2 separate regions of the Homo sapiens genome follow, and region 2 is linked to region 1. Evidence: fine-mapped expression QTL. Tissue or cell type: whole blood. Region 1 holds a variant in brackets; the other region holds the start of a gene. All regions are shown on one strand. Distances are between the middles of the regions.

Evidence for each region. PIP is the estimated chance that this variant, and not a neighbour inherited with it, causes the effect.
Region 2: it holds the start of ADIPOR2, and the variant in region 1 is fine-mapped to the expression of ADIPOR2 in whole blood (TOPMed, PIP above 0.99).

The regions. Positions count from the first base shown.
Region 1 is chr12:1,667,478-1,670,232 of GRCh38, reverse strand. No RefSeq gene overlaps it. Among named protein-coding and RNA genes, the nearest start is that of MIR3649, 8.5 kb to the right of the region's middle. RefSeq lists an enhancer at 1,070-1,119. The variant T/C (reference allele first, on the strand shown) is at 1,265.
Region 2 is chr12:1,689,742-1,692,241 of GRCh38, reverse strand. ADIPOR2 (adiponectin receptor 2) reads right to left here and starts at 1,172. Exons shown (of 8, transcript NM_024551.3): 1 at 1,051-1,172. RefSeq lists silencers at 870-959, 980-1,279 and enhancers at 778-1,356, 1,440-1,489, 1,510-1,669.

The DNA of each region.
Region 1 (2,755 bases):
GGAGCACAGTACGCTTCTGGTCTGAGCTTTTGGAGGCCATATGACTCTAGAATGAGCCCGCCTGGTTTTTGTGAATGAGTCTAACTAAAATGAGTCCTCTTATTTTTTCACCAGAAAAAAACAAGATGTGTCAAGGGGCTCTTTGGGCTGTGAAAGGGCTGTATCCCAGCAACAGCTCATGATGTTTCTGACAACTTATTAGCATCTATTTGAGGGTGATTAAAAACATAATGTGGGGCCGATTGCGGTGGCTCACGCCTGTAATCCCAGCACTTTGGGAGGCCGACACGGGTGGATCATGAGGTCAGGAGTTTGAGACCAGCCTGGCCAATATAGTGAAACCCTGTCTCTACTAAAAATACAAAAAAAATAGCCTGGCATGGTGGCAGGTGCCTGTAGTCCCAGCTGATCAGGAGGCTGAGGCAGGAGAATCGCTTGAGCCCAGGAGGTGGAGGTTGCAGTGAGCCAAGATCACACCATTACACTCCTGCCTGGGTGACAGAGCGAGACTATCTCAAAAACAAAAAAAAACGAAAAAGCCATAATGTGTAAAGGATTCAAATTGTACTCAATTATTATAATAGCCTACTTCTCCCCATTCCCATTCCTCCTCCCTAAACCAGAGCTCCTGTTTGCCAGGCAAATAAGCTACAACTAAAATAAAAGGTCTTTTTAGACAAGGATCAAGCCAGATTAGGAATATTATAACTAGGCTTTCCAATCAATATCAGGACTTTCCATTTCTCTATCTGAGTCTGAAACTAATTACACTTCCAGGTCGTGGGGCCCCAGGTGCTGCTCTCGTGGCACCACTCGTGGGGCTCTAGGTCCAGAGGACAGTCTCTGCTGGCTGAGGCTGGAGGGACCATCTCATTGGTAGAAGTGGCATAGCATGACTTGGCCACTGGACATCTTGGCTGTCACCCAGACTTATTTCAAAGGCGAGACTAAAATAAAGAGGGCTGATCAGAGTGGGGGCAATCAGAGATTGGGCCATCGCTAGAGTTACAAAAGCAGCGCTGGCTACTGTAGGGCAGCAGCGTCATCTCCTCGAGATAGGACTCCCTCTGCCCCAGTTCTGTTCACCGTCCAAAGACCAGGGCCCTCCCTGAAGCCCAGCACTTGAGAAATGCTCGCTCTCACGTATTATGACTCTGGCTTTGGAAAGAAATTCAGCAAGGGTACTGGTTGAAAGGTCAAAAAGTGGTGAAATGCCATCTGCCCAAACGGAAGCAAGGGGTCGCTTGGATTGGGTAAAGGTTTC[T/C]TTTGTGGTTTTAAGCCGTTGGGTTGTTTTTCGTTTGTTTTTGTTTTGTTAGAAAGCACTGTGTCTGTCTGGAGGTCGAAGGGTCGGGTGGGTGTCTGCAGTGCGGCTTTTCTCCCTTGGCCAGTGGGGAAACAAAGTGGGTTTACTGGCCATTTCCGCTTTGTGTGAAGGAAACCTGAGATTCACTGCCTCCAGCACATGGGAGTTGTCTGTTATTTTTAGTTTAGTTCTGTTGTTGTTATTAGGTGTTTTTAAAACATATGTAAGTGTGTATCAAAGTTGTATTTCACAGTGTTGGCAGAAAATTTACAGGAAAAAGACAGAGGAGGGTTTAGTTGAAGATCAGGAGGAGGTAGTAAGACTGGTTAAATGTCTAGTGAAAGGTTTTAGGCATACCAGGATTGTCAGTCAACTGGGAGGGTAACTCTTTTATTTTTAAAATTGTGGTAAAATATGTATAAAATAACATATACTATTTTAACGATTTTTAAGTAGGCCTGGGCACAGTGGCTGACACCTGTAATCCCAAGCTTTGGGAGGCTGAGATGGGAGGATCATTGGAGGCCAGGAGTTTGAAACCAGCTTGGCCAACATAGCAACTTCATCTCTAAAAAAATAAAAATAAAAATAAAAGGTTTTTTTTTTTTTAATTATCTGGGCATCGTGGCACACTGGGCAAGTAGTTCCAGCTCCTTGGGAGGCCGAGGCAGGAAGATCACTTGAGCCTAGGAGTTCAATGCTATAGTGAGCTCTGATCACACCGCTGCCCTCCAGCCTGTGTGACAGAGCAAGAACCTGTCTCTAAAAAAATAACAATTTTAAAATGCTCAAGTGAACAGTTCTGTGCCATTAAGTGCACTCACATTTTTGTGCCACCATCACCACCATTCATCTACAGAAACTTTCTTTCTTTCCCAACTGAAACTCTGTCCCCATTGAACACTAACGCCCCATCCTGCCCTGCCAGCCACTGGTGGCCACCGTTCTGCTGTCTCTGAATTTGACTATTCGTAGTACCTCATATGAGTGGAATCGTAGAGAGAGTAGTCGTCCTTTGTGACTAGCTCATTTCCCTTAGCGCAACGCCTTCAAAGTTTATTCACGTGGGTAATTCGTTCTTTACGGTTTGTTTTTCATCGTTTGGACCCTCAGTTTTTGTTTCTTGTTGAGGATTTGGTAGTCTCAGATACTGAGGATAGGATTGCAGGCTGAAAGTCTGGCCAGGAGGCTTCCTGATCCTTCTCCTCACCCTAAAATATCTTGGCCACACTGGATATATATTTTTTTCTTTTTGAGATGGAACCTCCCTCTGTTGCCCAGGCTGGAGTGCACTGGCGCAATCATGGCTCACTGCGGCCTCAACCTCCCAGGCTCAAGTGATCTTCCTGCCTCACCCTCCCAAGTATCTGGGACTACAGGCATGCACCACCATATCTGGCTAATTTTTTTTTTACTTCTTGGGAGAGATGGGGGTCTCACTTTGTTGCCCAG
Region 2 (2,500 bases), 22 kb before region 1:
AATGCTATGGGTAGATGGATGCTTTTTTCTGAAGGAATTTTTAGCATTTCATTTGGAAAAGTTCTGTGATCAAATAATGCTAAATGTTATGACAGCTTTCTTGGCGTTTAAAGGGATTCTCTGGGTGAGGGGAAGGGGTGATAAAAAAAAAAAAAGTCTGCTTTTGGAACAGAAATGGGGGACAATAACCAAGGCTCAGAAACCCAGAGTCAAAAAATTAAAAGAACATCTTATTTTAAAAAAAAAGTCAACAACCTGCAATGAAGTCACCGTACCCCCATAAAATCCCAACTGTGCATTTAAATCTTTCTACCAAAATTCACTTTTGGACCATCTTATGAAGTTGTCAAAATTTCAGAGGCAAACGCTTAAATCAAGATCAAAAGCCAGGAGGAAAAAAGAGCTAACAGTTTCCAACCCAAACTCTCTCCGAGCCCCCTAAAAACTGATTTATAACCCTGTCATCGGTAATTTTAGAAGAAGCGAACACTGACGGACGGGGGCTTGGGAAAACAGGACTCCAGGTACCAAGCAGGCTGCCTGACGCGCCACCTGAAAAAGGTGAGGGAACTCTTCCCCACCCCAGTCACTGTGAAAGTAGCGCTGAGAGAGCCCATCCCAAGCCTCCACCAAACAAATTCCTAGAAGTGATAAAAACAGACAAGAGACGAAGAGGGGCGGGCAGATCCTCTCCGCGGGCAGGGAGCTGGAGCAACTGCACCCGAAGGTGAGCAGAGGGCAGCAGGCTCCGACCCTCCGCCGCGAAAGGCGAGGCGAGGGGAACAGCGGGCGCCGGACTCCTCCGACAGCGGTCGCAAGGAGGGCGGCTCCAGGTCCCCACACGGCCGACCCTCAGGCCAAGGCGCGCCGGGCGGCAGGTCAGAGTTAGGAATCAAGTTGCGGGCCGGGCCGAGAGCGCGCTCTCCCGCCCGCGCCAGGGACATTCGCCCCTCAGCTCTCACCTCCCCCCGACCCCAAGCTCTCCCTCTGCGCCCAGGAAACGGCGCCCACACTCCAGAGACCCTCACCCGGAGCCCGTCGCCGCCTCACCGCGTGTCTCGGACTTCTTGGGAGCCACCGCTGAGGGGAGGGGGGAGGAGGGGGGAACGGAGGAGGGAGGGGGCCAAGCCCGGTGTAGCCGCCGCCGCTGCCGCCGCCGCGATGCCGCTTCTGGAATCGCGCTCTCGCCGCCGCGACAGCGACCGCCGCCGCCGCGTCTCCCCGCCCCCACGACCGCACGTCGCCGTGACGCGCATCGCACGAGGCGGTTCGAGCCAATAAGACCACACGCCGTGCGCAGCCGCGCTGTCCTAAACCGGAAGCCGCCCCTCTGACCGCTCTAAAACCTGGGTGCATCGTGGGAGCTGTGGTTCGGCCAGGAACTTAGCGAAAACTATACTGGGTGTTGAGGGCCGGAGGAGCGTGCGCTCCTTAGGCGCTCACACAACTCCTCGGAGTTTTTTCTCCCACCGAAAAAGGAAGCAATTTGGAGCTGAGGAGGAGGGGGCCGCCCCGGCTCGCGGATGCTTTTCGCAGTCTCTATGGATACTGGCTACACACTTTGGGCAAGAGCCAGAATTTGAGGATTTAGGCTGGATCGTGTGTCTCTGCCAAGGGCTGATAGGATGCTGAGCGTCGTCTGTGAAGACTGCGGAAAGAAATCCAAAAGCATTAGCCCAGTTTTGCCCAGAGCAATAGTGTTTGCCTTTTATTACCTTATTAAAGATTATGATTTATGCTCTACCACTTCTATTTTTTTTAAAACCCAGTCACTCTTAAAATACATATAATTCAGAGCGATTTTTAAAATGATGTTAATGTAATGGTATATCAGAACCTACTTAAGCACTAAATACCTGCGTCCATTTACCCAGAATGAGTAAGTAATTTTCCACAAGTCATCTTTACGTTGAGTTCTAACTTCTTAGAAGCCAAGAACAGATTTGGTTACGTACTTATTCTATAAGAAAAGTGAATATAAGAGTTAGTCTGCGTAGAAAAATAGTTCTTTACATTCAGTAGGAGGGGGAATTTATCACATTCTTAAGGCGTAAATGCCTTAACTATCAAAATTCTTGTTATTGACTAAAGGAAATCCATACGATTTAGGGAAAGTCTGTGCCCACGGCTTACTGTCCTTACCTTTGGACCACAGCAAGAGATAACAAAGGGTGCAGGGAAAAGCTGACAGGTCTTGAGGGAGCTGGAGTCGGATATATGACGAAAAAAACAAAAATACAGAAGTCTTCATTATGGAAATGTAAGTTTTAAAAAGTAAAGCTACTAAAATCACAAAGAACATGATTAAGATGGCAATAATACAGAACTAAGGCCCACTCATTTAAGCTTGAAAGAGATAAAACTAGTAGAAATTAAAATTAGGAAATAAATGTTAAAGGAACTAATTTCCTCCAAGGAGTGGTTTACATTGAAAATATAATTTTTTTAAGTTTACATAATTTGTGAAAGACATAATAATAATGACTTCTATGTTCCCAGG